Regions from separate parts of the Homo sapiens genome. Here regions 1, 2, 3 and 5 are each linked to region 4. Evidence: fine-mapped expression QTL. A gene starts in region 4. Each other region holds a variant in brackets. All regions are shown on one strand. Distances are from middle to middle.

What was found. PIP is the estimated chance that this variant, and not a neighbour inherited with it, causes the effect.
Region 1: its variant is the best candidate, but not a certain one, in a credible set for the expression of ST6GAL1 in whole blood (INTERVAL, PIP 0.81).
Region 2: its variant is the best candidate, but not a certain one, in a credible set for the expression of ST6GAL1 in blood mononuclear cells (TOPMed, PIP 0.60).
Region 3: its variant is the best candidate, but not a certain one, in a credible set for the expression of ST6GAL1 in whole blood (TOPMed, PIP 0.88).
Region 5: its variant is the best candidate, but not a certain one, in a credible set for the expression of ST6GAL1 in nasal epithelium (TOPMed, PIP 0.84).

What each region holds. Positions count from the first base shown.
Region 1 is chr3:187,097,340-187,103,414 of GRCh38, forward strand. No RefSeq gene overlaps it. Among named protein-coding and RNA genes, the nearest start is that of RPL39L, 39 kb to the right of the region's middle. RefSeq lists an enhancer at 4,582-4,631. The variant C/T (reference allele first, on the strand shown) is at 3,016.
Region 2 is chr3:187,003,436-187,009,510 of GRCh38, forward strand. The region is part of intron 2 of ST6GAL1 (ST6 beta-galactoside alpha-2,6-sialyltransferase 1); the gene reads left to right. Among named protein-coding and RNA genes, the nearest start is that of ST6GAL1, 76 kb to the left of the region's middle. The variant C/A (reference allele first, on the strand shown) is at 2,752.
Region 3 is chr3:187,018,568-187,024,642 of GRCh38, forward strand. All of the region lies in intron 2 of ST6GAL1 (ST6 beta-galactoside alpha-2,6-sialyltransferase 1), which reads left to right. Among named protein-coding and RNA genes, the nearest start is that of ST6GAL1, 91 kb to the left of the region's middle. RefSeq lists a promoter at 2,835-3,412, a cis regulatory region at 3,319-3,412, an enhancer at 3,415-3,684 and a silencer at 5,651-5,740. The variant G/C (reference allele first, on the strand shown) is at 1,763.
Region 4 is chr3:186,927,509-186,933,583 of GRCh38, forward strand. It overlaps ST6GAL1 (ST6 beta-galactoside alpha-2,6-sialyltransferase 1), which reads left to right and starts at 3,018. Exons shown (of 8, transcript NM_173216.2): 1 at 3,018-3,326. RefSeq lists enhancers at 2,633-3,241, 5,335-5,384, 5,405-5,464 and silencers at 2,929-3,008, 3,249-3,438.
Region 5 is chr3:186,974,619-186,980,693 of GRCh38, forward strand. The region is part of intron 2 of ST6GAL1 (ST6 beta-galactoside alpha-2,6-sialyltransferase 1); the gene reads left to right. Among named protein-coding and RNA genes, the nearest start is that of ST6GAL1, 47 kb to the left of the region's middle. RefSeq lists an enhancer at 881-1,762. The variant G/T (reference allele first, on the strand shown) is at 2,807.

The DNA.
Region 1 (6,075 bases), 170 kb after region 4:
CCAGAGTTCCAAGATTTATGAAACAATCACTACTAAATCAAAGAAATGAGATAGACAGCAACACAGTAATAGTGGGAAATTTCCATACTCCACTGACAGCACTAGAAAGATCACTGAGACAGAAAGTTAACAAAGAAGCAGTGGACTTCAACTATATGCTAGAACAAATGGACTTAACAGATATTTACAGAACATTCTACTCAACTACTGGAGAATATACATTCTTCTTATCAGAACATGGAACATTCTCCAAGATAGACTGTATCATAAGCCACAAAACAAGTCTCAATAAATATAAGAAAATCGAAATCATGTCAAGTATCTTCTCAGACCACAGTAGAATAAAACTGGAAATCAACTCCAAAAGGAACCTTCAAAACTATAAAATACATGGAAATTAAATCATCTGCTCTTGAATGATTTTGGTGTTAATAATGAAATCAAGATGAAAATTTAAAAATTATTTGAAATGAATGATAATAACCGACACAAGTTATCAAAACCTCTGGGATACAGCAAAAGCAGTGCTAAGAGGAAAGTTCATAGCATTAAACGCCTACATCAAAAAGTCTGAAAGAACACAAATTGACAACCAAATTTTACACCTCAGGGAACAAGAGAAACAGGATCAAACTAAACCCAAAGCCAGGAGAAGAAAAGAAATAAAGATCAAAGTGGAACTAAACAAAATTGAAACAACAACAACAACAATAAAAAATACAAAAGACAAATCAAACAAAAAGCTGGTTCTTTGAAAAGATAAACAAAGTTGGTAGACTGTTAGTGTGATTAACCAATAAAAGAAGAGAGAAGATCCAAGTAAGCTCAAATAGAAATGAAACTGGAGACATTACACAGAATACCACAGAAATACAAAAGATCATTCAAGACAACTATGAACAGCTTTATGTGCACAAACTAGAAAATCTAGAGGAAATGGATAAATTCCTGGAAACATATAACCTTCCTAGATTAAATCAGGAGGAAATAGAAATCCTGAACAGACCAATAACAAGCAGTGGACTGAATCCGTAATAAAAAAAATTGCTGACACAAAAAAGGTCCAGGACCACAGAGTTTCACAGCTGAATTCTACCAGACATTCAAAGAATTGGTACCAATCCTACTGAAACTATTCCAAAAGATAGGGAAAGAGGGAATCCTCCCCAAATCATTCTATCAAGCCAGTATCGCCCTAATACCCAGACTAGAAAAGGACATAATAAAGAAAACTACAGACAAATATCCCTGATGAACAAAGATGCACAAATCCTCAACAAAATACTAGCCAACTGAATCCAACAGCACATCAGACAGATAGTATATCACGATCAAGTGAGTTTCATCCCAAGGATGCAGGGATGGTTTAACATACACAAATCAATAAATGTGATAAATCACATAAACAGAATTAAAAGCAAATGCTATATGATCATCTCAATAGATGCAGAAAAAGCATTTGATAAAATCCAGCATCATTTTATGATAAAAACCCTCTACACACTAGGCATAGAAGAGACTTACCTCAAAATAATAAAAACCGTCTATGACAAAGCCACAGCCAACATCATACTGAATGGGAGAAAGTTGAAAGCATTCCCCCTGAGTACTGGAGCAAGACAGGGATGCCCACTTTAACCACTTCTGTTCAACATAGTACTGGAAGTCCTAGCCAGAGCAATCAGGCAAGAGAAAGAAATAAAGTCATCCAATTTGGAAAAGAGGAAGTTAAACTATCACTGTTTGCTGATGATATGATGGTATACATACAAAACCCTAATGACTCATCCAAAAGCCTCCTAGATCTGATCAACAAATGCAGTAAAGCCTCAGGTTACAAAATCATTGTACACAAATCAGTACCACTGCTATACACCAACAACGACCAAACTGAGAATCAAATCAAGAACTCAATCCCTTTTACAAAGCTGCAAAAAAAAAGTAAAATACCTAGAAATATAGTTAACCAAGGAGGTGAAAGATCTCTACAAGGAAAACTACAAAACCCTGCTGAAAGAAATCACAGATGGCACGAACAAATGAGAACATGCCTCAAGTTTATGGATGGAAAGAATTAATAATGTGAAAATGACCACACTGCCCAAAGCAAACTACAGATTCAATGGAATTCCCATCAAAATGCCATAATCACTTTTCACAGAACTAGAAAAAAGCAATACTAAAATTCACATGGAACCAAAAAAGAGCCCACATAGCCAAAGCAATACTAAGAAAAAAAAAATCTGGAGGCATCATATTCCAACTTGAAATTATACTACAAGGCTATACTTACCAAAACAGCATGGTACTAGTATAAAAATAGGCAGGTAGACCAATAGAACAGGACAGATAACCCAGAAATAAACCACATATTTATAGCCAGCTGATCTTAAACAAAGCATACAAAAACACAAATTTGGGAAAGGAAATCCTATTCAATAAATGGTGCTAGGAAAACTGGCAAGCCACCTGTGGAAGAATGAAACCATCTGCATCTCTCACCTTATACAAAAACCAACTCAAGATGGATCAAAGGCCTAAATCTAAGACCTGAAACCATAACAATTCTAGAAAATAACATTAGACAAACTCTTCTGGACATTGGCATACACAAAGGATTCATGACTCAGACCCCAAAAGCAAATGCAACAAAAACAAAAATAAATAAATGGGAACTGATTAAACTAAAAAGCTTTTGCACAGCAAAATAAATAATCAGCAAACAGACAACCCACAGAGTGGGAGAAAATATTTCAAACTACACATTCAATGAAGAACTAGTATCCAGAATCTACAAGGAATTCAAACAAATCCACAAGTAAAAGACCAAATAATCCCTTCAAAAAGTGGGAAAAGGGCAGGAGTAGATAATTCTCAAAAGAAGTATACAAACATATGAAAAATGCTCATCATCATTAATCATCAGGGAAATGCAAATTAAAACCACAATGAGATACAACCTTACGCCGGCAAGAATGGCCATAATTAAAAAATAAAAAATAAATAAAAAAAAAA[C/T]GGATGTTCACGAGGATATGATGAAAAGGGAACACTTTTACACTGCTGGTGGGAATGTAAATTAGCACAACGTCTATGGCGAGCCCTTAAAAAAACTGAAAGCAGATTCACCATTCAATCCAGCAATCCCACTACTGGGTGTCTACACAAAGGAAAAGAAGCCATTATATGAAACGGACACACACACACACATATTTATAGCAGCACGATTCACAATTGTGAAGATATGGAACCAGCCTAAGTGCCCATCAACCAATGAGTAGATAAAGAAAATGTGGTATATGGAATACTACCCAGCCATAAAAAGGAATGAAATAATATCTTTTGAAGCAACTTGGATGGGGCCAGAGGCCATTATTCTAAGTGAAATTACTCAGGAATGGAAAATCAAATACCATATGTTCTCACTTACAAGTGGTAGCTAAGCTATGAGGATACAAAGATATACAGTGTGATATAATGGACTTTGGAGACATGGGGCAGGGAAGGTTCGGGGCAGTGAGGGATAAAAGACTACATATTTGATACTGTGTACACAGCTCGGGTGACAGGTGCACTAAAATCTCAGACTTCACCACTGTGGAATTCATCCATGTAACCAAAAACCACTTGTACCCCCAAAAGCTACTGAAATAAAGTAATAATTTTAAGAAAGGAGAAATTAAATTTACCATATATATAAAAGAAATGAGTGTAATATTAAGGGCATGAAGTACAGAGAAAGACAACATTACAATTATTCAGAGAATTTATTGGAAATAGCTAGTATTAATAAAATGTTCTCCTTTAAAAAAAACAAACAAACCTGAAATGCTGGCTGTGCTCCGCAGTCTGATGAGACCAGTGGCTGGACTCTGCAGTAAGGCTGAGCTGTTTGATTGCTCCTTGACAGGCCGTGTTGTAGGCTGTCTTCTCTGGTTGGCCAGTACTGCAGTTTTGAATCTGTAGTTTGGCAGGACTGCATGCTGGGCTCTGAGGCTGAGCAAGGCTTCTCGGATCACTACTTAACTACTCTGGGTGGACGGGGCCAGAGGCGATGCTTCACAGATATGCGTGAACTTGAGCTTGCTTCTCATCCCAGGATAACCTTAAGCAGAGCACTGAGGCTTGGTGTTTTAGCTCTTTGGCTGATGGAGCTGGGTGGGGCCAGATACTCCCTTTACAGATAATCACTGCCCTGCCCCTATCTCCCAGCCTGGGTAAATTTCAAGGAGGGTAACAGGACTGGCTGTGGAAGCTGGCCAGGTACCTGAATTTGAGAGACCAGTTGACTGTGCTTAGTCCAGAGCAGCGCTGTTGGCTAGCTTCTCTGGTGGTGCACCTCCACTGGCCTGAATGCAGGACAGCTGCCAAGATTCCTGCACTAGTTGATGTGAGCCCCACATCTGTTCTTTATCTCCAAGTGATCTCAGATGTCTAGCTCTGCTGATACTCCCAGTGCTTCCTGTGTGATGAGACAAGAGAACACTTCCTCTGAAGGGTCCCAGAATGGTGGCAAAGCTGAATGTTCACCTCCAACTCTCTCCTCCCTGTGTAACAACCATGGGTCCCAGAGAATCCTCTATGTGTGGCACGTTGCCAGCTTGGGGGAGGAGCAATGTGGCCAAAGTGAAACTACTCCTCTTATTCTTGGCATGCGGCTGTTCTCAGTTCTGCGGTATAAGGGGGTGTCTTAGCTTCACTCTCAAGTTCTGGAATATTCACAAGGGTGTTTTTGTCTGTGAGTAGTTGCCAGTGGATTTGTGTATGTATGTGTGGTGGGGGAGGAGAAATGGAGCTGGAAAATTCCTATTCTGTCTTCTTGCTGATGTCATTCTCAATGTCTTTTTTTTACTGCTTTTAAGATTTTTTAATCTTTATCAGTAGTTTTAAGTAATGGGAGTATGATATGCCTTCTTGTAGTTTTCTTTGTGGGTTTTTTTTTTTTCTGCTTAGGGTTATTTGAGCTGTTTGGAACTATGTTTACAGTTTTAATCAGATTTGAAAAATCTGTTTTTTTTTTTTTTCTGAGACAGAGTCTTCTCCTGTTACCCAGGCTGGAGTGCAGTGGTGTGATCATAGCTCACTGCAGCTTCAGTCTGCTGGGCTCAAGCAATCCTCCAACCTCAGCCTCCTGAGTAGCTGGGACCACAGGTGCATGCTACCATGCCTGGCTCCCTCAACATAGAAGACCCTGTCTCGTCAAAGAAAATTTTTATTTTATTGCTCAGGCTGGTCTCAAATCTCTGGCCTCAAGTGATCCCCCTGCCTCAGCCTCCCAATGTGCTGGGATTATAGGTATGGACCCCCATGCCCACCCTCCTTTGGAGAACCAAATAACATGAATGTTAGGTTGCTTAAGGCTGTTCCATAGCTCATTGGTCCTTTCTAAATTGTTTAAATTATTCTTTCTTCTATTTTATTTTGGGTAGTGTCTAGTGCCATGTCTTCAAGTTCACTTATATTTTCCTCTGCAATATCAAGTCTGCCATTAATCCCATCCAGAGTGTTTTTATCCGAGATATTATAGTTTTGATCTTTCCTTTGGCTTCTTGAATATGTAAAATACAGTTTTAACAACTATTTTTATGTCTTTGTCTAGTAATTATATCAAGTATATCATCTATGGGTCAGTTCTAGCTGATTTTACTCCTAACTATGGATAACGTTTTCCTGCTTCTTTGCATGACTGGTCATCTTTTATTGGATGCCAGACATTGCAAGTATTTTCTTTTGGGGTGCTAGATATTTTTGTATTTTTATCAATATCTTGAGCTTTGTTCTGGGATGCAATTAAGTTTCCTGGCAATAATTTGTTCCCTTTGGATACCACTTGTTTGCTTCCTGTTCCTCAGGAATCCACTATTCGTTATTACCTGATTTCCAATGTTTTAAATATTGTTATTTTTTTCATGTTCTTTATTTGTTTCATGTAAGAGGGTAAATCCAGTCTCTTTTACTCCATCTTGGCCAGAAATTGAAATATCTCTTCATTAAAACTTGAAATAAATATGTTACAGGAGTTTTACTTCAGCAGAATCTGGGTTCATTCAAACATGTGGCTCTCTCTCAGAGACTGGA
Region 2 (6,075 bases), 76 kb after region 4:
GTTGACACATAAAATCAGCCATCACCATCAATTTGGGGGAAAATTGACATTTTAACAAAATTGAATCTTTCAGTTGATCAGCATGGTATATATCCTCCATTTATTTAGATCTTTTATTGCTCTCACTAGTGTTTTGTAGTTTTCAGTAAAAAGTCTTGCCTATCTTTAATTAAATTTGCTTCTTGGCATTGGATACTTTGCTACTGTAAACAGTATATAAGATATATTTTCCAATGATTTGTGAAATTTTGCTTTTGAAGAATTATAATGGAGAATTTTTAGGAGAAGGATAATTGAAAATCCGTCAGACAGCAGTGAAGTTTAGGAACTACCATTCTGGACATAACCATACATCATTAATAAAATATTCCTTACATCCCTATGCTACTTTATTATTGCCAAAACATTTTTTTTTCCTTTGGTCCTCGTAAGGGTTCTTAGAAAGAGACAGAAGAGCTATTATTTCTACTTTCATACAAGGAAATGTGGCCTCAGGGATTGATGTGGTTTGAATATATGTCCCCACCAAATCTCATGTTGAAATGTAACCCCCAGTGCTGGAGGTGGGGCCTGCTGGGAGGTGTTTGGGTCATGGGTGTGGATCTTTCATGGCTTGGAGCTGTCCTCACAACAGTGAGTTCTCATGAGATCTGGTTGTTTCAAAGTGTGTAGCACCTTCCCCACCACTGCCTCTTGCTTTTGCTTTCGCCATGTGATGTGCCTGCTTCTGCTTCACCTTCCACCATAACTAAAAGCTCCCTGAGGCCTCCCCGGCAAGTGAGCAGATGCTGGCACCATGCTTGTGCAGCCTGCAGAGCTGTGAGCCAATTAAATCTCCTTTCTCTGTAAATTACCCAATCTCAGGTATTTATAGCAATGGAAGAACAGACTAACACAGGGAGACTATCTGAAAGTCCTATGACTAGCAAGTGGCAGAGCCAGCCCCAGAGCCCAGGACTTTTCCTAAGAGAGAGGTCCTGCTTCTGATACCAAAGTTTTTCTATAGAAAGATGGCCTTTTATAAGCATTACTGAGAAGATACCTCCAGGTGCCCAGGAAGAATCTCCTGCTTGTAGCCTCCATAGGCAGTGTAGGAGGAAGGGAAGAAAACAGCAGAGTGGACCAAGGTAGCAATATGTAATACACTAGAGTCGGGAGCGAGAATGATGTCCTGTTAGCTTATACGGCACTTTCGTGCTATTAAGAAAGGATGCCCTTTCAGCCAGTACCAGATGCCATTATGCAGTGAACAACTTGTACAGTCATATGTGACATCCCAGAGAGAAAACAACAAATACAGAAACCTTACTTATTCAGGAATTAATTATTGATGAGGAAGCTAAATTGGTGTTTCTTTCCTTTAGAGAAATTGATTGAAAATACTTCAAGATGATTCAAAGCTAAAAGAGAAGAAATCATCTTTCTTTCTTCTCCCTTTTACAACCTTTCTATCTTCTATCCTTTCTCTTTCTCCTCTTCTTCCTTTCATTACTCAGCACTTATTGAGTGCCAGGGCATGAAAATGCAGAGATAAATGAGGTGGCATCTCTCCCTAGGAGCTTCTAAGTCTTACAAACGTTTTTGACTGCCACCATCAATAAGAAGTACATTTTATGGTATTGCAGTTTTTTTTTTAGGTCTTTCTTTTTTAAGGTTTTTATATATTGAAACATTTATTAATGAAATGATGAGTTCAGGATTTGTTTCAAAATCTAGGGATGTAGGCGTAAGTGGGGTATACACAAAACAGGACTGACCATGAGTTGATAATACTGAAACTGGTCATGGGTCTGTGGGGTTCATTATCTGTCATCCATGTTTCTTTTTCTTTTTCTTTTTTTTTTTTTTTTTTTTTTTGAGACGGAGTCTTCGCTGTTTCGCCCAGGCTGGAGTGCAGTGGCGCGATCTCGGCTCAGTGCAAGCTCCACCTCCCGGGTTCATGCCATTCTCTTGCCTCAGCCTCCCCGGTAGCTGGGACTACAGGTGCCCGCCACCATGCCCGGCTAACTTTTGTATTTTTTAGTAGAGATGGGGTTTCACCGTGTTAGCCAGGATGGTCTCGATCTCCTGACCTCGTGATCTGCCCGCCTCGGCCTCCCAAAGTGCTGGGATTACAGGCATGAGCCACGGCGCCCGGCATCTGTCATCCATCTTTCTAATGATCTATTTGAGACAAAAGTTTCATGAAGCTCTACTTTCTCTTATTACATGCAGTGGATTCTGATATTTTAAAATCTTGTTTATTCTCTTTTTAAAAACCTGGTCCTTGTGCCCAAATTGCTTTTGAGATCCACTGATGTAAAATAATACGTATTTTGAAAAACACTGGTGTATCGAGGGAGAGAGGGACCTATAAAATAATTGATTACTGTCAACCAGAAAGTGCTACTAGAATATGGTCAGAGGGCTGTGGGAGCACACAGAAGGGAAGGACCGACCAACAGGGTCCTGGGGAGTCTGGGAAAGCCCTTCAGTAACTTGCATGGAAGAGGAGACATAGGCATCTTTGACAAGATGGTGGGGGGATATCTGACCTTGAGGATGAGGGAAGTGGTGCAAGTGGGGTGAGCCAACCTGAGTTCAGTATGGCTGCAATGTGAGGGCTGTTGGGGAGTGGCAGGAAATGAGGTTACAGATAGCAGCAGCAGCAAAAGTCACTAGTCTTCTGGGACAGCCTAAGGAATTTATATTTTATCTGTGTTTCAGGGAACCATTGGAGGATAAACTGAGAAATGGCCCAGTTCCATTTGC[C/A]TCTTACAGAGATCATTCCGTCGGCTCCTTGTAGATAGACCAGTCTACCTCTGTGGTCTGATTTAGAACATAAAACCTAGACCCAAAGGAGAGCCAGTCTGGAAGCCAGATCTAACCTACCTCATGTAATCATGTCCCCACTCTGCCACATGACTTCTCAGATCTACACAGAACACAAATTGGGCTTTTTCAAGTATTTATCAAAACAAAAATTATGGTCACTTTCAGGACATAGGAAGAGGTGAAAATAGAGCCAATTCCCTGTGTGCTCCTTTCCCCTTTTCCCTGCATAGGGTTCTCTCATCTGTAGAGTTACGGCAACCTGTGAGAGATTCATAGTAATCACCTACAGTGTGGCATTTTTCTAGGTGCTTTACAACTATTAACTCACTTAATCTTCATAATAATTCTATGTGGTAAGTATTATTATTATTAATTTCATAGATGAGGAAACTGAGGTAAAAAGAAGTAAGTGATTTGTCTAAGGTCACACATCTAGCAATTAGCAGAGCTGGAATTTTGGCAATCTGGCCCCAAAGTCCACTTTTAACCACCATTGTGCTTCTTGATTAAGTTTGATTTCATTCCAGTCATCTCCTTAGACTCAGATGTTTGAACAAAGAGAATCGTGAAAAAAATTTGGCTTTAAGTTTTATTCTCAAGATTGCCAAATCCCTTTCTTCCCTAATGAGAGGAAGAGGAAAGTTTTCTAGCTGGGAGAAAAAGGATGGCTTCTTAGAAGGAAGTGGTATTTTAGTGGAGTTTTGAAACATGGATGAGAAGTAAATTGCTGAGAAGGATGAGTTGCTAGTACAGCCAAGATGAAATAATCCAACCACAATCTCTACCAATGTTTACAACAGAAAGCTGAATAGGATGCAAAAAACCACATGAAAACTCTGAAAAGTAATAGCAGGCAGGCAGAGTACTGGGTTCAAAACTTGAACAATGACTCACGATGAACATGGATTTGCAGAACAGTGTGGAAAGCTAAGAGTCCGAGATAACTCCATCTTTCTAACTAGAGGAAGCAGGGGGGAAAAGCCACTGGAAGCCAGAGAGTGTGAGGAAATCCCTGAGAGGAGAGAGGTGGAAAAAGGGATCCACAAATTGGACTGACAAAAGTCCTGGGCACACTACAAGGTGTGCATGCATGGAACAGACCCAGGAGGCACAGAAGAGGTTTTGAGAATCTAACTATGATATTAACAACCACCCAAGTCCCAGACAAACTCTTGAATGGAGCATGTGACAGATTGACTCAAATGGCATACCAAAAGCTTTGAAAACTGATCTGACACTGGAGCTAACACTCATAAAAAGTGAGACAGTACTTTCAGTCTGAACCTAAGTGGATTAATTTCCTGGTAAAACAAACAAACAAACAAACATTTTTCAGATGATTTTTAACAGGATTCAGAGTCTCACAACATATTAAAAAATCCAGGATACAATTCAAATTTACTCAATATCAAAACAACCTGGAAAATCTAAACAGTACTCAAAGGAAAAGACAGTTCAATAGGCAGTAACACTGAAATGACTTAGATCGTGAAATTATTAGACAAATAAAGTAGGTATGACCATTCTCCACTCTTGAAATTAGAAAGTTCTTGAAATTAGGAAAGATAGAAGTTCTCAGCAGAGAACTAGAAACTGCAGAATAATCAGATAGAAATTTTAGACCTGAAAAGATGATATGGGCCCAGTAGCGGAATAAATATAACAGAGAAAAGAGTCAGTGAACCTGAAGGTAGATCAATAGAAAGTATACACAATGAAATATACATTATGAAACAAAAAAAAATTGGAGAAAAATGAAAAGCCTTTCATGGTACTGTGGGACAATGTCAAAAGGCTGAAACTTCTTGGTATTGGCATTCCATCTCAGAAGGTAAAAAGAAAAATACTGGTGCAGAAAAAAATATTTGGAGAAAGAGTGGCTGAAATAGTTTCAAATTTAAAGAAAAACGTATCTTCACAAATTGAAGAATCTCAGTAATTTCAAACAGGATACATTTAATAACAACTCCTCAGCCACCTCATAAGAAAACTTCTAAAAACCAAGGATTAAAAAACATTAAGAGCATTAAAATATGACACATTATACGTAAGAAAAGGGAAGGAAGAAAAGAGAAGAAAGGAAGGACTCAAGAAAGAGAGAAAGAAAGAAAAAAGAGAAAAGGAAAGGAAGGAAGGAAGGAAGGAAGAAACCTATTCGAATGACTGTCCATTTCTCATCCAAAACCATGGTGGCCAAAGACGAAGACAGTGAAACCCCGTCTTTAGAATGCTGGAAGAACAAAAAAACTATCCACCCAGAATTTTATATCCAGAAAAAATATTCTTTGGGAGTGAAAGCAAAATAGAGATATTTTCAGGTGATGGAAAACCAAGAGGCTTCATTTCCAGGAGCTCTCCTCTTAAAGAAATACTAATGGAAGTTTTTCAACCTGAAGGGAAGCTGTACTAGAGGAAAAGTTAAAACTTGAGGAACAAAAGAAGAGCAGGAGAAATAATAAATATCTAATACATTCCCCTTGATAAAAATACACACAAACATAAATCTCATGACATGGGTAACTACAAACTACTGGCGATATTTTAGATTTATTTCCTTTAAGTCTTTTTTTTCTGTGAATATGCGTTTCTCTTTTTCTTTTTTGGTTTTTCTCTCTCTGTCTCTTCCTTTCATGTGGACATTTCATAACATATTTAAATATTCCTTTTTGTTGGGATTTGAGGTTGTTTCAGGTTATGCATGGACTGAAGTCAAACTACAGTCTTTGGCAGCATTTCTGATAATTCTTTTTTGGAGATAGAATTACTGAATTAAAAGAAGATGGACATTTTTAATGCTTTGATTCTATTTGTGAAATTGCCCACCCTCCCTCCCTTCTTTTCTTCTTTGCTTCCTTACCTCCCCTCTTTCTTCCTCCCTTTTTCTTTCAACTAAGATTATGTAGTATATAGTTTTATAATATTCTTTATTTATTCAATCTATATTGTGAGCATTTTCCTGTTTTGTTAAAAAGTCAATAATTAAAAAAACTTTTAAGTTTTTAAATTATTTTTAATGGTACTATGGTCGTATTTTTTTAAAGGTACATAATTACATGTTTATGGATGGAATGATATGTCTGGGATTTACTTAAAATACTTAGGGATAGGTGGCTATGAATAAAACATTATTGACCCTGAATTGATAATTGTTGATGCTAGGTAACGGATACATGGTGGTTCATTATTGCTACTTTCTATAGTTTTCTATGAGTGCAATTTTTTATTTTAAAACTTTATCTGAGTGTGGTGGTGTGTGCCTGT
Region 3 (6,075 bases), 91 kb after region 4:
AAGGCTAAGGAAGTCTAGTCTATTCACATTCTTCTGCCTGCTTTTTATTCTGGCTACAATGGCAGCAGATTAGATGGTGCCCACCCAGATTAAGGGTGGGTCTGCCTTCCCCAGCCCACTGACTCAAATGTTAATCTCCTTTGGCAACACCCTCACAGACACGCCCAGGATCAATACTTTGCATCCTTCAATCCAATCAAGTTGACACTCCGTATTAGCCATCACAGGGGCATGCTAAGCAAGAATTGTGTCTATGGCTGTAATCACAAAGTTACGATTATTGGAGTAAGCTCCACAAACCAGAGTCCCTTGTCCAGGGCCTCCAGAGATCCACCAGACACTTGAGTATCTCGAAAAGCCAGATGGGAGAAGCACGTTCACCACGGCAAACCTGCGCAGCCAAGAAAATCAAGTTTCTTTGTTTTATGCTAAACTTTTATCAACTGACTGTGGTAGTCGTGGCAATCTCATGCCATTCAGAACCTCTGATTGGCAACAGTATCTTTGTTCATTTGATAACAAATAACTCAAATTTTAAATTAAAGTTAGTCGACAACATCTTTCAAAATCTTGGAATCGTGTCGGGGGAAACAAAATACAAGAGATATGATTTGATGTGAAAGAATTTAGGACCTCTTGGCTTTGATTAAATTAGGGTGTGCTTCTGTTGTTTCACTGGGATTGTGAAATGTTGGGATGAGGAGATATGAAAAATCTATAGCTGAATATTCTGTTGATGGTTTTAAACCATAGAAATAAATATTCAGGAAGTCTCTATTGAGTAGCTCTATAGGGTAATGCTAGCTGCTAGAGCAAATAAACTCACGTCTTAACCATCTTGGCCCAGAAGTGATGTATGTTATTTTTGCTCACATTTCTTTGCCAATAACTAGTAAAATGATCCCATCTATATGCTGTGTGTGTTTGTGTGTGTGTAAAATGCAATCCCTCTCTGGACAGTAATTTACAGCAATAACTATATGGCAGAAGGAGCAAACTTCTTGTGGGGCAGCCAGCTATCCCTGATATGAGGAAAGAGAAAGAAGGGTCAGCATTAAGTGGCAGCTCAGGTGGCACACATTAAGAATCCAAGCTCTTAGAGAAATGGGAGTCCTTCATGGGAGAGGGTTTCTGGCAGCCAGGACACATGGAGCCCCTCTCGGAGGCACTATGCCACCCTCTGGGGGCAACAGGGTGTCAAGCACTCTAAGTCTAAGAACAGAAAGTTTGGGTTCTAAGGTCCAGATGAGGGTGAGGTTTGTGCACTAAAGATTAAGGAGATGAAGATCAGGGCAGAGTAAATAGGTGTCACCAGAAGGTCAATACAGTGATTAGCAACTGTAGTTGGTGTGATAAAGCAGAGAGGCTCGCAGTAGCCCTTGGAAGGGCCTGAGTAGAGGGACATAGGATGAAGAGCACTACCAGTTTGTTGGTTAGAATAATCTGGTCAGCCGGGCATGGTGGCTTATGCCTGTAATCCCAGCACTTTGACAGGCTGAGGCGGGTGGATCACGAGGTCAGGAATTCAAGACCAGCCTGGCCAAGATGGTGAAACCACGTCTCTACTAAAAATACAAAAATTAGCCGGGCGTGGTGGCGGGTGCCTGTAATCCCAGCTACTCGGGAGGCTGAGGCAGAGAATTGCTTGAACCTGGGAGGTGGAGGTTGCAGTGAGCCGAGATTGCACTGCTTCACTCCAGCCTGGTAACAGAGCGAGACTCTGTCTCAAAAACAAACAAACAAACAAAAAACAAAACACACC[G/C]TGGTTTCACCATTTACAGTGACATCTTGAGCAAATGACTTAAACTCTCTGAGTTTCAATTTCTTTATTTAAAAAAGAGGATTGTTAATACCCCACCCCACAGGGTGGTGGTAAGAATTAAATTTGGTAACATCTATAAGACCTGCTGTTCATTACAGTTGATTCTTAAGGCAGCATCCGGTGATGCCTTTGAAACATACATCGGCAAAGTCTTAATCAGATGAAAGCCAAAACCCCTACACCTGTGTAAGGCGCCACATTATCTGGCTGCCCCTGTGTAGGTATTTTGCTGTTCCCTCTACTTGCAACCCTCTTTTCTCAGAAATCTGCATGGTAGCCTCCTTCATCTCTGTTAACAGAAAAACCAAATTCTGTAAAATATTTTCAAGAAGTTTATCCTGAGGCAATATGAGTTACTGTAGCTTAGAGAAAACACAAACCCAAGAAGCCTTGAGTGAGTGGCCCTGAGGCAGTTGGGCCATAGTCTGGTTTTATACATTTTAGGGAGACAGGCATTACAGGCAAGGATATCTGGAAATCAGTACATGGAAGGTAACTGGTAGTTCTGTCCAAAAAATGTGAGACATCTCAAAGTGGGGGAGGGTGCGGTGTTAGGATATATGTATTGGTGGTTTTTTTTTTTGTTTTTTTTTGAGATGGAGTCTCGCTCTGTCACCCAGGCTGGAGTGCAATGGCGTGATCTCTGCCCACTGAGCCTCTGCCTCCTGGGTTCAAGTGATTCTCCTGCCTCAGCCTCCTGAGTAGCTGGGATTACAGGAGCATGCCACCACGCCCGGCTAATTTTTGTATTTTTAGTAGAGATGGGATTTCACCATGTTGGCCAGGATGGTCTCGATCTCCTGACCTCGTGATCCACCTGCCTTGGCCTCCCAAAGTGCTGGGAATACAGGCGTGAGCCATCATGCCTGGACTATGTGTTGGTTTCCATGCATGTTTCCTGGCGCATAGCCCCATAGCCCTTGCTACAGTCTTGCTAGAATGCTGGGCTTTTTAGACTTCAGGGACAGGCCCTAAGAAACAGTCTCTCTCCTGCCGTCCTTTCACCTGCCCCAAGGCAAGGTTTTTATGTTTTCTGGCCTGACTGTGGGCCTTACAACCCTCCCATGAGGCCAGGCATAGTGGTTCATGCCTGTAATCCCAGCACTTTGGGAGGCCGAGGTGGGTGGATCACCTGAAGTCAGGAGTTCGAGACCAGCCTGACCAACATGGTGAAACCCCGTCTCTACTAAAAATAGAAAAATTAGCCGGGTGTGATGGTGGGCGCCTGTAATCCCAGCTACTCGGGAGGCTGAGGCAGGAAGAATTGCTTGAACCCGGGAGGCAGAGGTTGCAGTGAATCAAGATCATGCTACTGCACTCCAACCTGGGCGACAGAGCGAGACTCTGTCTCAAAAAAAAAAAAAAAAAAAAACCTTCCCATGAGAGGTTCCTACCCTATGCCCTGGGGGAAGAAATGCTGACGTCAAGGAAGCTTCTATAAAAACCCAAGAGGACAGGGTTGGGTGAACTTTCTGATAGCTTAATAGGAGGAGGTTCCTGTAGGGCGGCACAACCAGGGAGGGCGTGGAAGCTCTGCATCCCTTCTCCCATACCTTGCTCTACACATCTCTTCATCTGTATCCTCTGCAGCATCCTTGATGATAAACCAGTAAATGTAAGTAGGGTGTTTCCCTGAGTTCTGTGAGCCGCTCCAGCAAATTAATTGAACCCACGGAGAGGGGAACCCCAATGGAAGCTGGTTGGTCAGAAAGAAGTTCTGGAGGCCTGGACTTGTGACTGGTGGAGGGGGGATGTCTTGGACACTAAGCCCTCAATCTGTAGGATCTGACACTATTTCCAGGTAGATAGTGTTGGAACTGAATTAGAGGACACCAAGCTGGTGTCGCTGCTTGGTGTTGGGGTGGGACCCCCACACATATGGTCACATAAGTCATCTTCTGTGTTGATTGTTGTGGTGTGAGAGCAGAGGAAAGATGGCTACAGAGAGTTTTCCCTACACAGGGACTTGGGGGGTAGAGGGTTAGGGGAGGGCTGAGGGGCCTTACAAGTCTTAAGTGCGTTTTAGGGATTCTTTAGCTAACAGTAGCTGAGAGAGTCAAGTTATTGTCTAGTGACTTGAAGTCAGTAGGAAGGAATGCCTGAGTAAGATAAGGAGGTTGTGGGGGCCTAGGTCCTTGGAGCCTCATAGATAGCAGCCCTCTGGGTGAATAGATAGTGATTGTCTCTTCTCAGACCTTTGGGTGTCTGACTCTCAGTTAGAATCTCTCCTAGATCTGGGAAAGGCCTAGCAAGGGAAGAGACATTAATATCGATTCTCTGGAGATGCACGTTTCCCCCACCAAAGATGGCTTTGCAGTCCAAAGGCTGTCTGGCAGCCTTTTCCAAATATGTCAAAGAAATGTATTTTGGGGCAAAATATTTTAATTTCCTTCAGAGTCTGCTGTCTGTCATGTGATACTATACCAGAGTCAGGTTGGAGAGTAAGCCACATTTTACTGGGTTAATTAAAAAACCCATTTAATGAGACTGTATTGTTTCTAGGGTATGACTTAATCTTTGCCTTTTATGGCCTTAGGTATTGTGTATAGTTTGGTATCTTATTGTCATAAAGGGTCTGTTTGGTCAGTCTTATAATCTCTATTTTACCTTAATGCTGGTCACTTGTACCTAAACCCCAAAAGGGAGGGGTATGATGAGGGTGTAACCTCCTTTCTGTCATGGCTGGGAATTCAGTTTTTCAGGTTTCTCTGGGGTGCCCATGGCCAAAAAGGAGTCCATTCAGTTGGTTAGTGGGGGGCTTAGGATTTTATTTTTGGTTTACACCTCCTTCCAACCCTTGCTCAAATGTCTTCTTCTCAGTGAGGCTTTCTCTGATCATCTGATTTAAATCTCCACCTCACCCACTCCAAGCTGTCCCTATTTCTCTTCCCTACTCTAATTGTCTGCATATCAGTTATCTCCTTGCAAAGCACCACGGATTTATGTTGTTTGACTCTTTATTTATCCTCACTATAAGGTGAGTGCTGGAGGGGTTAGGGATTTCTGGCTGGCTTCTCTACTGCTGTGTCTGCAGTCTGGTTCACAGTAGGCAATCAGCATTTGCTGAAAGAATGAACCTATAGCTTGGAACCAACCCAAATGTCCAACAATGATAGACTGGATTAGGAAAATGTGCACATATACACCATGGAATACTATGCAGCCATGAAAAATGATGAGTTCACGTCCTTTGTAGGGACATGGATGAAGCTGGAAACTATCATTCTCAGCAAACTATGGCAAGGACAAAAAGCCAAACACCACATGTTCTCACTCATAGGTGGGAATTGAACAGTGAGAACACATGGACACAGGAAGGGGAACATCACACACCGGGACTGTTGTGGGGTGGGGGGAACGGGGAGGGATAGCATTAGGAGATATACCTAATGCTAAATGATGAGTTAATGGGTGCAGCACACCAACATGGCACATGTATACATATGTAACAAACCTGCACGTTGTGCACATGTACCCTAAAACTTAAAGTATAATAATAATTAAAAAAAAAAAAAAGAATGAACCTATCGCATGAGTATTGGTGTAAGTTTTCTTACAGGCCCCGGGGCCACCACAAAGTAGAAGAACTCAACCTTCCCTATTCATTTCCTCACCTCCAACTCCCTTAGACTACCAGGACTTAGATCCTTTTGGGTATATATATACATATATATGTTTTATATATATACATATATACATGTTTTGCTTGTTTGTTTGTTTTTTGAGACAAAGTCTCGCTGTGTCACCCAGGATGGAGTACAGTGGCATGATCTCTGCTCACTGCAATCTCCGCCTCCAGGTTCAAGTGATTCTCCTGCCTCAGCCTCCTGAGTAGCTGGGACTACAGGTGCATGCCTCCACGCCTGGCTAATTTTTTGTATTTTTAGTAGAGACGGGGGTTTCACCATGTTAGCCAGATGGTCTTGATCTCCTGACCTCGTGATCTGCCCGCCTCGGCCTCCCAAAGTGCTGGGATTACAGGCATGAGCCACCGCGCCCAGCCTAAATGTTTTATATATATATATACACACACACATATACTCTATATATATATACACACACACATATATACACATATATATGTGTATATATATATATATATATAGAGAGAGAGAGAGAGAGAGAGAGAGAGAGTATATGTGTATATATTTTAACAAAAAAAGCCTGGGAGAACCATTGAATTTGAAACCACCAAATCTCAACAAGCCTTGAAATCTAACACTCAGTTTAAGGAAACACAGAGCAGAGAGGAG
Region 4 (6,075 bases):
CACATGTATAGACTGGGAGGACAGGATCATCTCCAAAGTAATGCCCCAGCCTCTGCCTCTCACTTATAGGTCAGAGGGTCCTAAGTGATAAGAGAGAACCTTGGTGGAGGCTGCTCCACAATGGCCCCCATCCTGGAATTTTACCAGGAGCACCCTTGCTTGCCCACTCATCTGTCTCAGACGCCCAGGAAATTTTTGCACGTGTCATATCATCTGTGCTTATCTCAGTGTTGAGATAACCTTTTCCCTTGTTTTCTCCTTAATTTGGTTTTCCAGTTCTCTGCAAAAGAGAACTGCGGAGTGGGGACTGGACAACCTCTGAAAGAGCGCCTTCTGCTTTTGTGGAGTGCAGTGGCGTGATCTCGGCTCACTGTAAGCTCCGCCTCCTGGGTTCACACCATTCTCCGGCCTCAGCCTCCTGAGTGGCTGGGACTACAGGCGCCCGTCATCGCGTGCCCGCCTAATTTTGTTTTTGTATTTTTAGTAGAGATGGAGTTTCACCATGTTAGCCAGGATGGTCTTGATCTCCTGACCTGTGATCCGCCCGCCTCGGCCTCCCAAGGTGCTGGGATTACAGGCGTGAGCCACCACGCCCAGCCCCGGTTAATTTGTTTTGTGTTTTTAGTAGAGACAAGGTTCCACTGTGCTAGCCAAGATGGTCTTGGTCTCCTGACCTCATGATCCGCCCGCCTAGGCCTCCCAAAGTGCTGGGATTACAGGCGTGAACCACCGCACCAGGCTGTTCTTAGTTCTTAAGTAATGTTGACATATGGGTGATGATGAAGGAGATGATTAAAGCTTTCAAAGAAAGTGGAAGAATGTGTCAAATTCTCTCTTCACTTCCTAGATGACTTCAGTTTCCTAATCCATAAAATAGGACTAAGACCATTACTTATCTGATGAAAAGGAGAGACAATGTAATAAATAAGGTGCTTTGAATCCTGTATTAGTCCATTGTCACACTACTGAGAAAATTATAAATTACCTGAGACTGGGTAATTTATAAACAAAAGAGGTTTAATTGACTCACAGTTCCATATGGCTGGGGAGGCCTCAGGAAACTTATAATCATGGTGGAAGGTGAAGGGGAAGCAGGGCACATCTTACATGGCGGCAGGTGAGAGAGAGAATGCAGGGGAAATGCCAGACACTTATCAAACAACCAGATCCCGTGAGAGCTCCCTATCACAAAAACATCATGGGGGAAACCGCCCCCCACGATCCAATCACCTCCCAGGAGGTCCCTCCCCTGACACATGTGGATTACAATTCAAGATGAGATTTTTGGGTGGGGACACAGAGCCAAACCATGTCAGATCTCCAAATGGTAGCTATTATTTAGATGTCCTTTTCTTCTGTCTTGTTACAGTCACTGACACAGTTCAGGCTCTTATTATATCTCCATTGATGTCAGCTTCCAATCTAGTCTCTTGCATTCTCTGCTTCTGCCATCTATTTTCCAGTGTGGTGCCAGAGGAATCCTTGTAAAATACAAAGATGCATGTCATGCTACTGCACAGAATCTTTTAATAGCCTCCTTTTTTTTTTTCCCTTTTTCGAATAGGGCCTAAAATCTTCAATGTAGCATCCTTCCAGAAATAGTCTTCTGAACTTGGCTGCTTCTATTCATTCACGCATACATACATTTTACTGTCAGGAGCACCTTCTATATGCCAAACACTAAGCTACGTGTTTCACGTAGGTCATTTCACAGGATCCTGAAAACAACGCTTTCCTTAATATCTCCATTTTGCAGAAGAGGAAAGGGAGGCTCACAGGATGTGGAACTCACCCAAGAAGGCACAGCGAGTTGGTCATAAAGATTTGAATTCACTCTGGCTGGCACTCCCTTCAATTGGAGCTCTTTGTACTGAGCAAAAATGCCTCAGGGGCAGCAGGGAAGGGAATGACAGTATCAGCAGAAGGGAGCCAGGATCAGGACAGGGAGGAAGCAGTGTTTGGAAGAAGGGTGCTGGGGACAGGGTGCGGATGTAACTTCCCTTTCCAAGGTTGGTGATGTGGGGTAGGCACCTCATTTGGAGACAGAACTCTGGGCCTGGGCTTCAGGCACTTTAAGTGTGCACTGGACTTTGTGTTCCCAGAGGACCCCCAAACCTTCCAGTATCTCCTTCCTTTCCCCTTTCCCACCCAGCACACAGCCTGGTGCCTAGTGTGCACTCAGTAGACAACTGGGATATGACTATTGCCTCTGGTAGTCACATCCTCTCTTTGGGCTATGGGAGGCTGGACTGGAGGCCTTAAAGGCCCCTTCCGCCCTCCTGTTGGGCAGTTTTTCTTTCTTAGGGAAATCGCCTTGGGGCTATCGGGGATGGTCAGTACGCAGCTTGGTTAATCCTCTTTCCTTCCCCAGCAGCCCCACCGTCGTCCGGGTGAAAAGAAAGAACCTCGCTCCCTTCACCATCCAGGCTGAGGCTTCAGTCTTTCAGCCTGCAGCTTGGGGTGGAAGCCTCTGGGTGCAGGGGTTCGAGGACGCTCCTCTCCTTCTGTATTTGCCATTTGAGAGCGCCCAGTAGGAGTCATGCCTCAATGTTAGGAGGTTAATGCCAAACGCAGTGAAAGATTTTGTTCTTTCCTATTCTAGATAAGAGCAACACGAGTCTTCGGAGAGGTTAAGCGACTTCCTCAGGGTCTCGCAGTCAGCCGGTAGCAGAGACCGGGTGTACAGCACCCGCATGTTAGGACCAAAAGCCGGACACTGCTGGATTGACCCCTCGCGGCCAAGCGGGGAAGAGGCATTTAGGGGTCCTTGCGCAGCCGCGTGGCCCCTCCCACTCGGCCCTCGATCCACCCTCCTTGAGAGCAGGCAGGATTCTAGCATCACCCAGTGCCTTCATCAAGAGTCTTTAACCCCAAGCCCGCTCGCTAGCGACCTCCAGGCCGGTTTGGGGCGCGGTGTGGCCGGTGGCGAGAGGTGGAGTGGGGGCGGAGACCGACCCAGTCTTCGCAACTCTATTTGCATACGGAGGCGACTCGCTTCCTTCCCGCCCCTCCGCCGCGCTCTTCTTCCTTCCTTCTCCAGTCCCTTCCACTGTGCGTCTTCTGTCCCCCGTTCTTCCCCAGCGGACCCCTCTTTCGAGACTCCCTAGTGGGGTCCCCAGCTCCCGGGCGATCCTGCCCTTGCCGAGCGCGTTTTCTGGAGTCACCTGGGGGAGGGGAGTCCTGGGCAGGGCCGGGCTGGGGAAGACGCCTGGGGCACTGCCCGGCGTTAACAAAGGGAGCCGATACCGACCGGCGTGGGCGCGGAGCGGGCGGCCGCCACCGAGCGTGCTGAGCAACCGCAGCCTCCGCGGCCGAGAGTGCAGCGAGTGAGTAGGGGGTGCGGTGGGCGGCGGCGCGGCCCGGGCTATCCCGGGAGGAGTGTGATGCAAAGGGGCGCGGGAGGATAGCGGAGGCGCGGGGCCCGCGGCGCGCGTAGGGCGCAGGGAATCTCTCTCCAGCTCCGCCTCAGCTGCCTTGGCTCCGGGGCTGGCCGCCTTTTGGTTGGGGGTGTGTGCATTTTTGTCAGGGCCAAAGGGCCACCCTGGCTTCTCTCTGGCTCCGCGAGCCTGCGGATCCACAACAAACCCACGTGCGCACAGCCCCGGGGAACACGGATTTCTCCACGGCACCGTCAGTATGGGGTGGGGTGGCGTGGGGGCATTGCGCCTTGCAGAGTCTGGGTTTACGGATCGACAAATTGAGGCCCGCGGCAGCGGAGGGGGCACAGGCACCATAACAAACGCACGTGCGCCCTGCCCGGAGAGCTGGACGCACTGCATACCCTTAGGGGCCGCCCTGCGGTGCCGGGCCATTGTCTCAGCCTCGGGGGAGGGAGTGGCTCTAGAGGCGCCACTTGCTGGAAGAGGGCGAGAGAGACATTTAAAAGGTACCGCTTGGGCATCAGACTAAACTGCCAGACTTAAAAAGGGAAACCAAAACAAGAAAGCAGCTACAAAAAGGTTACTCCAGGCTGAGTCGGTCCCCGGCCGTGGCGCATTCTTTTGGGTGAAGTGGACCACCCCTCACCTTCACCTCCTGGAGGTCTCTTAGAGATGTGGGTTGGGTTAAGGGTCTAAGGGTGCCCCTCAAAAAAAGAGAGTGCTGGGTGCACTATTGTCCCCGCACTCCGGCGATTGCCTCTGTGGGGATATTTTGGTCGCCTCCTCAGCCTGCGGGAAGAATGTACGAGTCGCCCAGTGCGGTCTTGCTCTTTGCCTCTGAGGCCCGTGTCCGTGTGCCCAGACACCCCAGATGTCACTAGCCCCTTTTGGCTTGTTAATGCATTTTCGCAAGCAAGGCCAGCCGAGACCTCGTATTCTAGCTGGGGACGTACAATTTTCAGTTCTGAGTTTATTTGAAAGAAATTCCGAGGTCCGGAAAAAGAGAACTCTTGTTTGTTTTGCTTTTTCTTTGCTTACATATGCTCAGCTCAGCTTTGCAGATGTTAATCGGACACGATCTGCAGCGGGGAGATGGTTTCGCGGTGAATTGGTCTCTGAGGCGATGGTGTTGGTGCAGGTTGTGGGCGTGCAGTGTGAGCAGGAATGGAGGCGCCGCCGCCCCAGTGTGTGCCTGCTGAGCGGGCGGGCTGCTGCCTCACCTTGGCTAGTGTGGCTGAAGATTAACCTGTCCCCGGGGGGGGAACTGGAGAGCCTCCAATCCTATTCCGCTGTTATTGAAAAGGTCTAGAGAGCATCTAGGGAGCCTTCTCATTTTACAGGCAGGAAGCTGAGGCCGGAGAGTTCAGCCACTTGTCCAAGTTTAAACCGGGTGAAACGGGCCACAGAGAGAACACTTGAGTGTGGGTCTCCCAACTCCCACTGCATCGCTCAGCGGGCAACTAAAGGCAAAACCGGGATTCTGTGATTGGCCTAAAAGGCAGTGGCCTTAGGCAGAATAGGGTGAAACAAAGAGTAATTCAAATAGAAAGCTGCACCCTTCCATTATCCCTTTCAAGAATTCTTTATTCTGTTGAGAAAAAATAGATTTAGTAATTCCTTACTCTCCTTCAAGCCTTTCAAAAGCTTAGTTATTTTTCTCTCCTGGCTGCCCCTTCCCCTCAAATTGGAATAAGGCCAGCTACGGAGACTCAGATGTTTTGCCTCTCATCCTTGTGCCAGGAGGCCTTTGTTTGGGCAAAAGCATGGGCTGTTGACATCAGCCCCACGGGGAAGAAAGTGTGTCTTAGCAAGCTACTCCTGAGCCACTTGTGGGAGAACAAAGCATTGTTTTCACTGATCTTATTAAAGTTACTTTTTTTTTAACGAGAGTCCCATGGAAGTAGCTGCTTATTTTTGTATTTGGCAGAGAAGTAGGAAAACCAAAAAAACACTGAGAAGCCGGATTTCCCCAAAGTTAACATGTTGTTTTGCACTGTGCCTGTTATCTCCTAGTTACACTTGTTTCTTTTCCTTAGAGTTTCCAGCGTGTTTCACTTTCAATGTGATTCTGGTAGCAACAGGAGGCAGCTGGATGCCTAGGCAGATAGGGTCAGGTACCCGGTGAAACCCCCACCTCCAGGCCAAAGACAGTTTAAAGCCTGAAAGCCAAGCTACGAGTTAAATCCTCAGACCAGAGTGAGAACTTGTTTGGCGTGCTTTCCCCTAATTGATTCCTACATTTCGCCTGTTTTACATATACCCACTTTTTCCTAATTGGTTTTCTACGCTGCCGTGCCCACCTTTGAGTGGTGTCTTTGCTTTCATCTTTTTTGCATACTCACAAACCGGTCAGCATGCACTCCCTATTCTGAGTCCATAAAAGGCCCCTGACCCAGCCACATTGGGGAACTTTTCCGTCTTCAGGTAGGGGACCAACCCGGTGTCCCCTCTCTGCTGAAAGCTGTTTTCAACACTCAATAAAATTCTTATCTGCCTTCCTCTCCCTTCAATGTCCAGTGTATCCTCATTATCCTTTGGTGTGGTGCACGAGCTCGGAACCACCGAACGCGGGTACAAGCTATAATACAGTGAGCTGGGACACACCTGCATGGCCGAGCGAGCACAGGTGGGGCATTGCTGGCCCGAGGACCAAGAAGAAAAATCCTACATCAATTCCTCTTGGCACTGCAGTATA
Region 5 (6,075 bases), 47 kb after region 4:
AAGACAGGAGAATTATTTTTGTTTTTATGGGATTAGTTCTGTGCTCCCAGCAGGAAGATCTCATTAATTAATTAATTAATTCAATTAGTATTTACTGAGAGCCTGGTTGGGGGGGGGGCGCCCACAGCAGGGTTGGGTGCAAAGGGAAATAAATAAATAAACAAGTGGTGGGGGCTGCTTCACTGTGGCTGATGAGCTTCCACTGTCAAGTGTAGCCTAACTTGCCTGCTCAGGTGGGGTTCATGGCAGCTGCAGGGCAGGTTTCTGCTTTCTACCCTGTAACTCTTATTGGAAGGCAAGGCAAAGGCCTTCTTTTGCAATACCTGGTATTGCAGTGAATTATTGACTGAGCAGACAGAGAGACGTGTCCTCGCCAACATCTACAAATAGCTCTGGGCTTTGGCAGGCCTGGATGCAGGATCTTGGAAAAGAGGAGCGTGGGTCTGCTGTTTACAGTGCAAAGATTTGACAGGTGAAATTGGGGCGAGGGTGCGCTGAGGGAGGAAAGGAGTGCAGGCAACGTCAGGGCCGGTGGCCAGGGTGAATCCAGGGAAGCGGGTGCCTGTGTGCACGGTGGGTGTTGCTTGGAGGCTGGGGAGTGAGTGGGAGTATGGCCTTGTATACTAGACTGAGAGGCATTTGCACTTAATGGAGTAAACATGGAAGATGCAATTTCAGTGTCTGAGGAGGAGCTTAATGATTCAGAGCTGGACTTCAGGAGATTAATCTTTTGTGAGAAGATAAGCAAGGGATGGGTTGGGAGACTGTTGTGAGGGTCCTAGTATTAGATGATGTGGACTTGACTTGGACAGGGGCATTGAGGCAAGGAAAGAAGAAGTGCAGGGGAGAGAAAGTTCTGCCAGGTGATGGGGAGTGATTCTTCTCTGTCCCTGAGGTTCGTACCTGCCTGGCCATCTGCCTTTTGCTGTTCAACCAGTCTCCCTCTGCCTGTCCACAACTGAACTTCCCCACAGTGTGTTCTTCCATGGCCTCTTTGTACTCTCCCATCCACTTCTTCCCTCTTGTTCTACTTCTCTTGCCCAGGAGGAAGGAGAGGATCCAGCGAAAGAGATGGAGAGAAACAGAACACTGTACCCATGAAAGGCAGTGCCAGGGCAGGCAGTGGAGAGAGACTTCCAGAGAGGGTGGCTGGCTGTGCCAAACGCCACAGAAGTGAGTGAGGCTGGCACTGAAGGAGGTCTGGGGGACTCACGATTGGGACTAGGGTGAGACCTCCCTTACCTCATCCCAATCCTGGCCCTGGGAGGAACTGGGGACCTCGGAGAAAGCATTAGTTTACAACAAACTGGACCAAGTGTGGGACTGTTTCTTCTGAGGACAGCCTCCCAGCCTCCCATAGGAAACTGCCTGCAACTGCTCGGGACCCACTGGTCTCCTTCTTCCCCACCCCAAGACAGCCCCTCAGGGTCTCCACGGGCTCGCTAGAGTTCCTGCACACAGTTTCAAGACCACAGATCAAACTCACCTCCCTGCATCCTACCACAGAGAACTCTGAGACCCAGCAAAGTACCTGACTTGTCCAAGGTCATCCAGTGAGGTGTGACCTTGTGGGTCTTTCCTTTGCTTTCCTTTGATTTCTCATCTTCAGTTGGTTTACGCTCTCCTTTTATTCACCTCCCCCAACCTTCCCCTCCTCCGTAAGAATTGGAAACAGAGAGTTGATAGTTGAGGTCTGATTTATAGCTGAGGATTGAGGTCAAATTTGTAGCTGAAGATTGAAGTCCATTTACTGAGTGCCTACTTCTACCAAGCATTGTTTTAGAGGTGTTTACATACATCATTTTATTTCATTCTTTTTTTTTTTATTTGAGATAGCGTCTTGCTCTGTTGCCTAGGCTGGAATGCAGTGGCACTATCTCGGCTCACTGCAACCTCCATCTCCCGGGTTCAAGCGCTTCTCCTGCTTCAGCCTCCCAAGTAGCTGGAACTACAGGCATGTGCCCCCACACCCGGCTATTTTTTACATTTTTGGTAGAGACAGGGTTTCACCATGTTAGCCAGGCTGGCCTCAAACTCCTGACCTCAAGTGATCCACCTAGTTTGGCTTCCCAAAGTGCTGAGATTACAGGCATGAGCCACTGTGCCCGGCCTTAATTCTTATAAGACCCTTTCAAAGTAGGTGTCATTACCCTATTTTCCTGATGAAGAAATAGAGGCTCCTAGAGACTGAATGGCTTGCTTACCTTTGTATAGTTACTAACTGGTGCTGCTGGTTTATATTCTCTCCCCACGCATGTATTTCTTCAGTCACTCATATTTACCTAGTGCTTTAATGCCAGGCACTGTTTTAGGTGCTGATACCATATGAATAAAGGACACAAAAATCCTGCCAAGACCTTCTCCATTTGTGGCTTGCTTGCCAGAGGAGATCGGCTTGTTCTTTATAAAGTCTCCTGTGCTAGATGTCTCAGGGCTGGGTATAGCAGCTGCTGTGTTTATTGGCTATTGCTGAGATGAAATTCATGACCCGATTTGCTCCTCAGCCAGCAAGGCATGTGGACTTCTTTCTGTCTGCTTCCGGGGGTCTCTGAAGCCTTCTGCTGAAACTGCCCCTAGGCGAGATAGTTTATTCTGTAAGGAGTGTGACTGTGGCTCCCTCCCCCACGGCTTCTCCCCCATTTCTTTGCTTTTATCACCAGCGGTTTCCCTTAGCCACCACCGCTAGCAGAACCCTGATTTAGTTCCACGATTTAGCCCTGATAAAGGCGAGCTATTTTGGCTTCCTCTGCCCTAAGCCCCAGGGAGAATTTGGACTCAGTGTTTTCACTTGTCATTTTAGACTGTT[G/T]GCCAGAGTTTGCGGAAGAAGGCCTGTATTATTAATGCCCTTGCCGGGAACAGCTGCACCCTGCCAGGTTGTCATGTGAGACCTCTGAAAAGCTCAGAGCTACAAGGCCCACAGCTCTCCTGGGCCCACTGGGTCAGGTGGGAAATATGATCCTACAGAAACTGCAGGCAGCCAAGGAGGGCGGAAGGCAACTTGGAAGGAACTGATCAGTCTCACGCAGGAGACACAGCCGTCCTCTGAGCGCCTCAGGAGGGCTAATTCCATCCCGTGCCTCCAGGGGCCTGCTGTATTTGAAGATCTTTTAGCCTGAGGGATTTTATCACATCATATAAAAGACACATAAAATAAAAATGAAGATATTAATAATCAGTTTAATAATATTTAGAGAGCCATTATTCCTTGTAGTGGTCACTATCCTCATCACTTGAAATAGTTTTAATTTTCAGTACAAGCCTTTGAAGTGAATGGGACTTGTTATTGCCATTTAATAGATAAGAAAACAGTCTCGGCCGGGCGTGGTGGCTCATGCCTGTAATCCCAGCACTTTGGGAGGCCAAGGTGGGAGGATCACCTGAGGTCAGGAGTTCGAGACCAGCCTGGCCATGGTGAAACCCCATCTTTACTAAAAATACAAAAATTAGCCAGGCGTGGTGGCGCACACCTGTAATCCCAGCTACTTGGGAGGCTGAGGCTAGAGAATCGCTTGAACCCAGGAGGCAGAGGTTGCAGTGAGCTGAGATCATGCCACTGCACTCCAGCCTGGGTGACAGAGCGAGACTCCGTGTCAAAATAAAAATAAAAGAAAAAAGAAAAAACAGTCTCAGAGAGGTTAAGGGAATTACCCAAGGTTATGCCAGGTAGTAAAGGTAGAGGTGGAATTTGAACATAGTCTATCTAGCTGGAAGCTCCTGCCCCTTTCAGGATGCTGTGAGCCACTAGACACATCATATTTCTCTGACTCCTCCTCAGTTTATCTGTGCAGTTGGTTCCCACTCCTCTCTCTCCACGTTACTCTGTTAACAGCTTCTGGAGCCTGGTGTTCCAGGAGGGACTTGACCAGAGTTCACTATCTGCTGAGCCAGGGGTTAGCTGGGTGGATGGTGGGGCTGCAGGCCAGACCAGGAGCCAGAAAAGATGGTCTCTGGCACCCTTTCCTTTATTCACGGAAATGGCCCCTCTTCACCTCTTCGTGCTCCATCAAAGCTCCTTTTTAGTGCTGGGAGCACACCACGGAGTTTAGAGAAAACAATCTAATAATGTTATTTGCTTGCTTAGAAAACCTCCACCAGTCCCAGTTGCTTGCAGGATAAATTGGGACTAGAAATACCTCTGTCTGGAGCAGATGTCCTGTCGAAGACCATTTCTCATCACTGCAGCCCTTATACCCTGTCCCACCTCACAGCTTCTCCCCATCCCTGAACACAATGGGCCACTTTCATGACTGAGCCTTTGCACTGCTATTCTCTGTTGGGCATGCCTTGCTCTGCTTGGTGAACTCCTGTTCAAACTTCAAAACCCAGGATGAACTTTACCTTTTCTGACTTCTGACTTCCTCTAGTAGAGTTGGCACCACCTCCTCGGCCCTTAGTTTTTAATGCTTTACATGATTTTCCACCCACTAGTTTATGGTCTTTTCTCTAAGACCTCAGCAGCAGGAGCTGGGCCCTATTTATTTCTGTATCATCTGTATTTGGGGCATATTTGTGTGAACAAATGAATGAGGGCTCATTGTAAAACAAACTGTATATAAAGTGTGAGTCACAGGTGGCCCCACTTTAACTGAAATGTTAGGTTAGGTTGGGGGAATTCAGAGAAAGGAGAGGTGATACCCTGAGGCCTAGCGTTATTGATTAGTTGACCAGTGAGCTATGCACTCTGCCTGGAGCATTACTGCAAATGAGCCTAGGACCTATTGAGAGAAGGTCCCAGGGGTGAAGTAACAGTGGGAGGCCTTACAGTTGGGAAGTGAAGCTTAGGTCTTCCCTGTTCTCCAGGCCAGACTCAAACTCTGTGCCTGATCTGCTTCCCAAGAGAGGAACTCCTTGGGCAGACCTGGAGAAAAAGTGGGGATTTTGGATGGTCCCCAAAGGAGGGTAGGGGTAGAAGAGGAGTCGAAACAGAGACAGGAGGAAGTCCAAGACAAACTTTCCTTCCTTAATACATAGTGCTCGGGGGCATCCTTCTGGCTGTAGCATCTGCGTAATAGCTGCTCCTAAGAATGCAACGTGAGCTGAATTCAAACATGAATTTGGAGCCAGTACCTGAATATGTGGGTTGTTCTATGCCACCGGGCCCCCTGCCTGTTTAATTTCTCCTTCCCCTGCTGCCAAGGCTTCCGAGAAGTTGCTGTGTAGGTGCTTAATGCTTCGGAGATGGTCAGGTATGAGTTTAAATCCTGGTCTCGGGCACTTTAATTGCTAATTGTGTAGCACTGAGCAAAAATAATAGGGATGCAGCTTTTATAGCACCAATCAGGTCAGTGATGTTGGTGATACTGTTGAGAGCTTACTATGTGCCAGGCATTATGCTAAGTGGTTGATGACCATTATCTCATTTATTCCTCCGTATACCCTACAGGCAGATGCTGTCATCATTCTGAAATTCCAGATACGTAACTGAGGTTCAGAGAGGTTAAGTAAGTTGCCTGAAGCCATAAAACAAACGATGATGGAATCAGATCATGGATCCTGATATGTCACACCTTAACCATTGTGCCATTGGTCTACAATTTGCCTGATCCTAAGAATCACCTGAGACTCTTGTTAAAAGAGCAATTCCCAGGCCCTGTCTCAGATTCAGATTCAGCCCAGCTGGGGTGGAGCCTGGGGAGCAGTGGATGCAGCGGGCACCCTGGATGATACTAGGATCTGGCAAGTTTAAGAAACGCTATATTGTGCCTTCCTGCCTGTAAGTTGTGGCTCATGGTTGGCCCTCAAGAAATGTTAGCTGTTAGTATTATAATATAAATGAATTGAAAGGACAGCTTATTGTGAAAGAATATACGTCTTTAAAAAGCTTATTAGTCCTGACACTAGATTTTAAAGATAGAGGTCGGATGGGCGCGGTGGCTCACGCCTGTAATCCCAGGACTTTTGGAAGCCAAGGCAGGTGGATCACGAGATCAAGAGATCGAGACCATCCTGGCCAACATGGTGAAACCCATTCTCTACTAAAATTACAAAAAAAAAAAAAAAAAAAAAATTAGCCAGGCAAGGTGGCAAGTGCCTGTAGTCCCAGCTATTAGGGAGGCTGAGGCAGGAAAATCACTT